2 separate regions of the Homo sapiens genome follow, and region 1 is linked to region 2. Evidence: fine-mapped expression QTL. A gene starts in region 2. The other region holds a variant in brackets. All regions are shown on one strand. Distances are from middle to middle.

Region 1 (5,370 bases), 39 kb after region 2:
TTTTTATTAGGGACGGGGTTTCACTATGTTGGCCAGGATGGTCTCGATTTCCTGACCTCATGATCTGCCCGCCTTGGCCTCCCAAAGTGCTGGGATTACAGGCATGAGCCACTGCGCCCAGTGGAGGTGAAGTAACTTTCTAATCATTAGCTGATTACCTCATGACAACTCAGGAGGTGAGGTGCTTGGATTATCTGCATTTCGCACTGAGGCCCAGGGAGATGAAGCAACTTGCCCAGGTTAACCCAGCTGGGAACTGGCAGGCAGAGTGGCTCCAGTCTGTGCCCCAGGCTGCCACCTGTCTTTTCAGGAGGCCCTGTTGTGCCAGAAAGCATTGCACAAGGGCTCTGGGTGGGCTGTCTCCTTCCCCTGGCCCCGGAAGCCCTCTCCTTGCCTGTCTTGGGTGGCTGTGTTGCCAGGCAGTCAGCATGGGCTTTGCAAACTGACAGACGTGTTTCTAATCTCAGCTCTGCCACTGACCAGGTCAGAGACCTTGAACAAGTCACTTGACCCTGCTGTGCCTGTGCCTACTGTATCCCCTCCAAAGCTCAGGTTGAAATTTAATTGCCATTGTGACAGTATTAAGACATGGGACCTTTAAGAGGTAATCAGGGCCGGGTGTGGTGGCTCACACCTGTAATCCTAGCACTTTGGGAGGCCAAGCTGGGTGAATCGCCTGAGGTCAGGAGTCTGAGGCCAGTCTGGCTGACATGGCAAAACCCCATCCCTACTAAAAATACAACAGAATTAGCTGCGCGTGGCAGCAGGTGCCTGTAATCCCAGCTGCTTAGGAGGCTGAGGCAGGAGAATTGCTTGAACCTGGAAGGTGGAGGTTGCAGTGAGCTGAGATCACGCCATTGCACTCCAGCCATTATCCTGTGGGTCCGGCCTGTCTTGCTCTCCCTTCCTCTCCCTGTGCCATGTTATGATGCAGCCAGACATCCCTCACTTGATGTGGCTCCTCAGTCTTGAACTTCCCAGCCTCCAGAACCGTGAGCTAAATAAGTCCCTTTTCTTTATAAATGATTCAGTCTCAGGTTTTCTGTGATAGCAGCAGAAGACCGACTAAGACAGCACTTCAGTCTTCCCATCTGTGAAATGGAGGTGTTCAGGGCCACCTCTCCCTGAGCAATTGTGAGGATGAGATGAGGGATGTGCCAAAGGTGCTGGGCACAGCAGTGGCCGTCACGTCCCAGGACATGGGGATGGTGACTGTCTCCCACAGCAGGTTGCTCTACCTCCAGCTGCCAATCATGACAATAACCAAGCCACCAGCTCCTGGTGCCTTCTGAGGACTCAGCTCCAGAGAGCACTTAACCCTCGACACCCCTGCTGAGTGGCAGGCATATCACCCCCGCTTAACAGGGAGCTGAGACTCAGAAAATTTGCGTAAATAACCCAGGGCCCAGCAGCCAGGAAATGTCAGTGCCAGGATCAGAACGGGGGGGTCAGAAACCCTCCAGTCACACTTGCCCTGTGGTTCCAGAATCGTGCTTTCCTTTCTGTGCGCACCCCACACTCCCCTGCACAGGGAACTGGAAGCCACTAGGCCCCTCACAGAACCTGAGCTCAGATAGGAGCACCCCATGAAGCCTGGGCTCCATCCTCCTGGAGGGGGAAAATAAAGCTTCCTGGCTTGGAAGACAAGGAGGAGGGGATGGGGACTGAGCCCCCAGCAGAGCCCTCTCAGGGCCGAGAGCCAGCCAGCAACACAGTCAGGGAGAAAGTTGCCCAGGAGCTTTGTCTCCAGCACTCTCTGGGTACCCATCATGGGTAGGGGTGGGCCTGGGGGGCTCCAGGTAACCAGCCAAGGGCTGTATGGACAGACCACCCCTGGAACCCGGGCTGCCAAGAGACACGGCACCCAGTGGGGGAGGTGCCAAGCCTGGCATTGGCCAGGGTGCTGGACAAGCCATAGCGTGGCTTGGTGGCCCAGTGAGCAGGCAGAGGAGGCCACAGGAGAGACAAAGGCAGCTAAGGAGTGGGAGCAGGAACCAGGGCCTTGTCACCCTGCCATCACCTTGTCACCAAACCCACGAGTACCTGTCACCCTGCCAGGGCAGACACCTGAGAGGGGCTTTTTTTTTTTTTTTTTTTTTTTTTTTTGAGACAGAGTCTTGCTCTGTTGCCCAGGCTGGAGTGCAGTAGCACGGTTTCAGCTCGTTGCAAACTCCACCTCCCAGGGTCAAGTGATTCTCCTGCCTCAGCCTTCCAAGTAGCAGTGATTACAGACACCTGCCACCATGCCTGGCTGATTTTTGTATTTTTGGTACAGATGGGATTTCACCATGTT[T/G]GCCAGGCTGGTCTCGACCTCCTGATCTCCTGTGATCCGCCTGCCTCAGCCTCCCAAAGTGCTGAGATTACAGGTGTGAGCCACTGCGCCTGGCTGAGAGAGGCTCTTGATGCCTTCTCACTCACCCTTGGCTGGTGGCCACCTCCCGCCAATGCTCCTTCCTCAATCCTGACCCGGTCTTTGCTCCATGGTCCAGCCACCCTCCCTCTCAACATGAGTGCCTGCTGGTGCTGTAGCCTTCCAACTGGACCACCCTCTCTCTCCCCCATTTCCCCACTGGATTATTTGTGGACCAGCCCACCAAGGACAGCCTTCAGCTTCTGTGTTCTTCCAAGTGCTTGGCAGAGGTTGGAGCCCCTTTGTGTTTCCTGCAACCCCGGTTCTCACTTGTGCTCTTAAGAAAAAACTCATCTGAGAGTATCCACTTGTTCTCACACAAGGACCACTGCGCTCAGGTCACACAAATGCAGCGTGGATCCCAGCCTGGCTTCTGATTCCCCATGACCTTCAGGAGCCGACCCTTGCTCCCTGGTCCTGGGCATCTGTGGAGCCCCAGCTCCGAGCCAAGCCACCGGGGTCTCTTGCCCCACTTTCCTCTCTGGGTGACAGGCACCCTACCCCACCTCAGGACTATTTCTAGAGGCTAGAAATTCCCCTAGCAGGCTCAAGTTCCTGCTGCTCTTTATTTGGGAGCAGCTGCTTGTTTCTTGCTCTGTGGGATAACCTGAAATCTGACATCTGCCCCTGCCCATTGGCTCAGCCTAAATGCTCATTTCCGGGTGCTGCCTTTTCTGCCAGAAAGAGGGCCAGCCATTTCCACTCTGCCTGCGCCTCAGAAAGCCTGGGCAGCAGTCCAGGGCTCCCCAGTGGATTGCACCCAGCTTGCTGCCGGTGCGGCAGGGGTCCTGGTCTCAAGGGGAAGATGCATCCTTAAGGCTGGTCTGGTCTCTAGCTGCCCTGTGTCCCTCTTCATGGTTTCTCTAAGAGGCATCTGTTTTGCTCATCACAAATGACTCCAGGTCACTTTAAATGCATGTGAGGCTTTTCAGGCTGAGCCCAGTGGCTCATGCCTATGATCCCAGCACTTTGGGATGCTGTGGCAGGAGAATCTCTTGAGGCCAAAAGTTTGAGGTTAAATAAGTAAATAAATGTAAGACTTTTATAAAAAGATTACTTATGTGTTTCTACATACTGATCCACATTTTGAAAACAAATTCCAGTCGTTTTGGTATGCCTAAAATTGTTCCAATTTTGTTTTGTTTTGTTTTGTTTTGTTTTTGAGACAGGGTCTGGCTCTGTTGCCCAGGCTGGAGCGCAGTGGTGTGGTTATGGCTCACTGCAGCCTCGACCTTGTGGGTTCAAGTGATCCTCCCACTTCAGCCTCCCGAATAGCTGGGACTACAGGTGCGCATCACCACACCCAGATCGTTTTTTAAATTTTTTTGTGGAGAAAAGGGTCTCCCTATTTTGTCCAGGCTGGCCTCAAACCCCTAGGCTCAAGCAGTCCTGCCACCTCAGCCTCCCAAATGCTGGGATTACAGGCATGACAGCCACTGTGCCCGGCCTAAAATTGTTCCAGTTATAAAGATTGGATTTCAAGGGGGTGGGGTTGCATTAGAATCACCTTCCCCAAACCACGTGTTCCCTATGCTGCCCCCGACCCAACACACACAGATTCTCAAATACCTCCTCCTCCCCACAGCCGTGGCCCAGTCGCCTGTCAGAGCTGACGATCCTTACTGAGGACTGCGGTTGCAGCCCCCGGGGGCCAGCCTGCCCTGCAGACACACCGGGGTGGAAGAGGGTTGAGAGCAGGCCCTGAAGCAGCTTTTTTTTTTTTTTTGAGACGGAATCTTGCTCTGTCACCCAGACTGGAGTGCAGGGGTGTGGTCTCGGCTCACTGCCAGCTCCGCCTCCTGGGTTCACACCATTCTCCTGCCTCATCCTCCTGAGTAGCACCCAGCTAATTTTTGGTATTTTTAGTAGAAATGGGGTTTCACCATGTTAGCCAGGATGGTCTCAATCTCCTGACCTCGAATGATCCACACACCTCGCCTCCCAAAGTGCTGGGACGCCTGGCCCTGAAGCAGCTTTTATGGAGAGGCACAGTGAAAGGAAAGATTGGCTGAGAGATCATGGTGGCCAGCCGGGGGCAGAGGCAGTGGGGAGAGACAGGGCTGATTTGCGAGGGACGTGGTGGGGACTGGAAGGGCTGGGGTGGGAGCTGGGTGTGGATACCAGGTCAGGAGGAGTTGTTTTCGCAGGCCGGACTCCTTCTGTTCATTAAAAGTATTTCTAGGCCAGACACAGTGGCTCATGTCTCTAATCTCAGCACTTTGGGAAGCCAAGGCAGGCCGATCACCTGAGGCCAGCAGTTTGAGACCAGCCTGGTCAACATGGTGAAAACCCGTCTCTACTAAAAATACAAAAAATTAGCCGAGTGTGGTGGTGCACCCCTGTAATCCCAGCTACTGGAGAGGCTGAAGCAGGGGAATTGCTTGAACCCAGGAGACAGAGGCTGTAGTGTGTAGGGACCAGCCCCACAGGGTCGGTGGGTCTCTCCCTGTGTGCGGTGACGAGAGAGTGTAGAAATAAAGACAAGACAAAAAGATAAGAGAAAAGACAGCTGGGCCAGGGGTACCACTACCACCAATGCGTGGAGACCGGTAGTGGCCCCGAATGTCGGGCTGCGCTGTTATTTATTGGATACAAGGCAGAAGGGGCAGGGTAAAGAATGTGAGTCACCTCCAATGATAGGTAAGGTCACGTGGGTCACGTGTCGACTGGACAGGAGTCCCTTCCCTGCCTGGCAGCCGAGGCAGAGAAGGAGAGGAGACAGAGAGAAAGACAGCTTACACCATTATTTCTGCATACCAGGGACTATTAGTATTTTCACTAATTTACTACTGCTATCTAGAAGGCAGAGCCAGGTGTACGGGATGGAACATGAAGGCAGACTAGGAGCGTGACCACTGAAGCACAGCATCACAGGGAGACGGTTAGGCCTCTGGATAACTGCAGGCGAGCCTGACTAATGCCAGGCCCTCCACAAGAGGTGGAGGAGCAGAGTCTTCTCT
Region 2 (5,370 bases):
AAAGTCGGTCATCAACAGAAAGGTCCTTCTCAGAAGACACAATGGGCTCCTACTGTCTGGATCACGGTTTTACCTGGCGCTGTGCAGCAGAACTTTCAGCTGTGATGGGAACACTCCATATCTGCGCCACCCAATACGGCAGCCGCTAGCCCCATGTGGCTACTGAGCACCTGAAACATGGTGATGCTACTGAGGAACAGAATTTCCACTTTTATTTCATTTTAATTCATTAGATGTAAGCAGCCGCCTGTGGGCAGAGGGTCCTACGCTGGAGAGCACAGTCCTAACCCGCCATCTAAGCTAGAATGTCGCAAGCACAAAAAGAATCCGAGCAAGCAGCACGGGGTTGTGGGAAAAAATACCGGACAGGAAGCGAAGGCAGGATCTAATTATCATTGCCTTAGCCACCAGAAAGCCCCCACCACCCCTTTGAACCCCAGTTTCTCCATCAGCAGAGGGTGGGAAGGGGCTGACAAGGGACCAGGCCCTTCCGGCTCTGACCACCTGCAAGTTCATTAGGATCTCCTACACCTGGGCACTGGAAATCCAAGGAGGCCCGTGGGTTCCCTGCCATGGCAGGTGAATGGGGCACCTGTTAGTCCTGGCTACTTGCCCCAACCCCAGCACCAACCATGTCTCCCCCATCAGACTGAGAGCTCACTAAGGACAGGCACCAGATGGGGCCCTCTCGGCTTCCCCAGCCCCTAGCAAAGCATCTGGGCACAACAGGTGTTCAGGGCTTAAAAGTCAGCATTAACCACGAGCCTTTCCAGCGTGTGTCTGGACGTGGGCTAAGCGTTCTCACCCGCCATTTTGCTCATCCTCACAGCCACACATCAGCGGGCCGAGGTGGTCTCTTCTCCCTCCGCAGAGACCACAGCTCAATGGGATTCTATGATCTGCCCAGGGTCACTCTGCTGGTAAGCCGCAAAACTGCATTCAAACCCAGGACTTCCAACTCCGAAGCCAGGTTCTTAATGTGTAAGCACTGATGCCTGCTACAAATCCATCCCCAGTAGCAGATGGAAGGAAAGGAAAAGAAAATATGAACTGGGCTACCAGAAGTCCACTTGGAGGGGCCTCAGAGAAGTGACACAAACCTCAAAATCCCTAAGTGGCTGAGACTTCCAGCATTTTAAAGCCTCCAAGAAAGAAGGCTAGGTCCCCCTCCTTCTTGGGCCCTCACGGTTTTCCAAGGGCAACGGAGCACCCATAAGGCAGGGGAGAGGCTGGCCGTGGACCGGGAGACCTAGCTAGACCTGACCTCTGTCCCTCAGCAACTGTGTGACTCCGAACAATTTGTGCCTTCTCTGAGCCTCTGAAAAAAAGGTGTAAGAGTCCCTCACAGATTAACAGCGATAGAGCACTTGGCCCGCAGGACTTAATGAGTGGCCACAGAAGCCAACGACACGCTTAGCCATTCCTAAAGCATTTTAGGTCCCACCCCATGCGGCGACTGGCATGTGCTCAAGATAGCAGCCCATCGAACGCTCTGTTCTCCAACCAACACCCTCCACTGAGAGTCCCTACTCCAATCTTCCTCAGAAGAATGTCAGAGACCTGCCCTCAGGTGTCTGGAACTCCATACAGCTACAACAGCCAAGCCTACAGCTTTTCCTGAAACTGCCCGACTGCTGGTCCGGCGTGACCTTAGAGCCAGACACCTTCTAAACCACGCTGTGATTGCCTCAAATACAGTGGCAACAAGGAAATCCCAGGGCATGTTTACAGAACAGGAAAGCTGCTACCTCCTTTCCCTAAAAACCTCAGATGGGGTACTATACAATCTCCTACCTCAGGTCTGGAAACAGACCAGCCTAGCTTTAATTCCCAGGTCAGCCACTCACCAGCTGAGTGACCTTGGACCAGCCTCTTCCCCTCTCTGAGCCTCTGTGCCTAGACTGTAAAGTGGGAATGACCACCACTAGCTCACACAGCTGTTATTGTGAAAGTGACGTCAGCTAATGCTGGGAAATGTGAATGCCCCAGGTCCTGCCTCGGTGATGGAGGCAGCCCTGAAACAAGAGAATGTACAAGCAAGGCACTCCAGGCGGGGACTGGTCCCATCCCCCACCCGGAGCCCAGGCTGGAAAGGAGGGACGTTACGTTTCCACGCTGAAAGCCCTGACGCCCATGTTATCTCCCTTCCCAGGTGAACACCAGGACTTTGCACTCATCAAAGGTTGGGCAGGATTCAGGAACAGAGAGGTTGAGTGACCTGTCCAAGGTCACACAGCCAGCCAGGTAAAGGGAGAAGCAGGGATGGGTGGCGGCCCTGGGCCCATCCTCCTGCAGCGCCGGCCAAATAGGCTCCATCTCCACGGAAGGGGCCGCTCCCGAAGGTCTCTGACCTTGGTTTCCCCAGATGAGAACCAAGCCCCTTCCCACCCCCACCCCACCCCACCCCGCCCCGCAGGGATCCGAGCATCGGGAGAGCGGTGGGCACGGCAGGGGCGGAGGCCAAGGGCGACCACCCGGCCCAGCAGAAGCCCCGGGCGCGGGCGCGGCGTCTACGCGGCCGCGCTGCAGGGCTGGGGCATGGCGTGGCGGGCGCGGTCGGCGCGGGGCTCACCGGACTTGGGGTAGGTGACGATCCACACGTCGCTGGGCCGCACCGGGAAGTTGGCGATCTCCTCCATCTTCCCGCGGCAGAAGGGCGGCAGCCGCACGCCATGGAACTCGAAGTACTTGCTCTCGAACTCCCCCGGGGTGCTGGGGGTCTCGGCCTCGCTCTCCGCCATGCCGCCGCCGTCGCCGTCGCCGCCGCCGCCTCCCGGCTCGCAGCCCGCACGCGCCCGCGCCCGCGCCCGCGCCCGCGCCCCGCACACGCTCGCGCCCCACCGGCGCGCGGCGGCAGCTCCGCAGGCGTGACGTCATGGCGCCGCCGACGCGCGGCGGAGGCTCCGCGGGTATGACGTCATGGCGCCGCCCGGCACGCGGCCGCGGCGCTGCACGGGCGTGACGTCATGGCGCCGCGGAGCCGCGTCCTCCCCGCCCCGCCCCCGGCCGGGGTCACCCACCCGCTGCCGGGGCTGACAGAGACCCTGGCCCGCGGTCTGCAGCCTCCTCAGTCGTGCGTGCGTTCATTCCGCTCATAGCTTCTGTCACTCAGCAAGCGCTCAACACAGACGCATGAGATACCCTGGCTGGAAGGCCCTGAAAGGTAGTCGTCCATTCAACACGTGCTTAGCGCGCTGCTGATCTGTGCCAGGCACTGGGCCAGGGCCCCGACACGCGTCAGGGTAGAAGCAAGCAGAAGCCTGGCCCTGTTGGAGCTTACATTGGTAAATAACCAAGATAATTTCAGGTAAATATTAGGTCCTATTAAAAATATGCGTCTTCGCCAGGCGCGGTGGATCACGCCTGTAATCTCAGCACTTTGAGAGGTCGAGCACGGGCGGATCTCCTGAGGTCAAGAGTTCGAGACCAACCTGGGTAAATGGTGAAACCGCATCTCTACAAACATACAAAAAAAAAAATTAGCAGTGAGCTGTGAGCTTGCACCACTGCACTCCAGTCTGGGCAACAGGACGAGATCTTCTAACAACAACAAAAAAAAAGTATGGGCCACCTAGTCCAGCCAAAAAAACAAAGTGCTTTTTTTTTGCTTTTTTTTTTTTTTTTTTTTTTTTGAGATGGAGTCTCGCTGTGTCGCCCAGGCTGGAGTGCAGGGGCGCGATCTCAGCTCACTGCAAGCTCCACCTCCCGGGTTTACGCCATTCTCCTGGCTCAGCCTCCCGAGTAGCTGGGACTACAGGCACATGCCACCATGCCTGGCTAATTTTTTGTATTTTTTGTTTGTTTGTTTTAGTAGAGACGGGGTTTCATCGTGTTAGCCAGGATGGTCTCAATCTCCTGACCTCGTGATCTGCCCACCTTGGCCTCCCAAAGTGCTGGGATTACAGGTGTGAACCACCTCGCCCAGCCAAAAAGTGCTTCTTAATATCCCATGAGTAGGGGAGGGGAGTGTTGGATTGCAAATTCCAGGACCCCAGATCTATGGAGAAAAATTACAAAAATATACATTTAGTAAGGCACTTCTTGTGCAAACTATAATTTGAGAGCAACCGAGTTCTAGAGATCTCAGTGCAACCCCTTGCCAGTCATGCACTCAACAGACATATATGAAGCACCTACTAACATGCCTGGGGAAGCACAAAGATGAAAACAACACAGCCTGCTCTCATTCTCTGCAGCCGAGCATCATCAGCTGTGTAAAGGAAAAGAATGATTCCTACCTCTAAGTAGTGTAGCCAGGAAGATGGAAGGAGTTTACACCAACAAGAATCTGGAGCAGAGTGGCTGGACGGGACCTATTCCTACTCTCTCCTTCTTACTGTAGAGTGAGACACGTGCATTCTGACACCAAAGACATACACATGGGCTGAGAAGCGCAGGCCATGTGTACATAGCAGACAGAGAGAGGAAACAGCAATTAATCCTGACTTGGGAAGCTTGTAGATGTCTTTCCAAAAAAGAAAGAGGACATTCCGAGCACCCAGCCTTTATTCAGAATAATTAGGCCAATGGCAAAAGGGCATCTAGCCAAAAGCTAGAGGGATTGAGTGAATGAATGAATATCCTGATGTTTCAGGTGAGGGTTCTCACTGTGGGAGAAGGAAAATGTAAGTGGGGAATGCGAGAAGGCAGGGAAGAACTCTATGGTATTGGATTGGAATTGGAGGTATTGACATGAGTTTATGATATTTTAAAATTCCTATTTCTTATATTTGCTGGAAAAGCCTTTAGGCAGTGATATCTCAATAATACTAGGCATACCCACTGCCCAGATCTTTGCTAAATACTTCCCTCACCAAATGAACCTGGGGTTTCTTGGAGAAAAAGCCAACTCCAGGGCAAGGAAAGTACAAGATGAGCCTAAAATGTCTTGTTGAGTCTTGAACTCCTGCAAGTTCAAAAATGTTGGGAATAGGTCAGAAGGACACAGGGTATAACATGAAAGTATTATCATAGGTCAAATCGGAAACAATTTGAGCATGTTAGACAAAAATGGGAAAAAACCCACGTACCCAACAGTAGAATAGATAAATTGCGATATATTCATACAATGGAATACAGTAATTTTTTTAAAAAAGGAATGTAACTGAGAAGAATGTCACAGTCAAAATGATGAACAAACTAAGTCAAGCACAAAAAATGGTATGTCATATGATTCTATTTATATACAGTCAAAACCAAGCAAAACTGATCTATAGTGATAGAGGTGAGAATAGTCTTAACCTGGGGCATTGGAAAGAGGGTTGACTGGGAGCAGACTCAAGGTTACCTACCCTCCATAGTGTTGGAAACATCATAGCTTGCTCTTAGTGGCGGTTACATGAAGATATAGACATAGATAAAAGTACAGAC

Direction of the effects. Positions count from the first base shown, and alleles are read on the strand shown. Sizes are in standard deviations (SD) of each study's normalised expression.
With allele G in place of T in region 1, the expression in fibroblasts of the gene that starts at base 2,872 in region 2 is higher (small effect, 0.30 SD a copy in GTEx).

The links. PIP is the estimated chance that this variant, and not a neighbour inherited with it, causes the effect.
Region 1: its variant is the best candidate, but not a certain one, in a credible set for the expression of SULT4A1 in fibroblasts (GTEx, PIP 0.51).

The regions. Positions count from the first base shown.
Region 1 is chr22:43,899,104-43,904,473 of GRCh38, forward strand. No RefSeq gene overlaps it. Among named protein-coding and RNA genes, the nearest start is that of PNPLA5, 9.8 kb to the left of the region's middle. The variant T/G (reference allele first, on the strand shown) is at 2,294.
Region 2 is chr22:43,859,642-43,865,011 of GRCh38, forward strand. It overlaps SULT4A1 (sulfotransferase family 4A member 1), which reads right to left and starts at 2,872. Exons shown (of 7, transcript NM_014351.4): 1 at 2,573-2,872. The coding sequence starts at 2,741. RefSeq lists an enhancer at 688-1,187.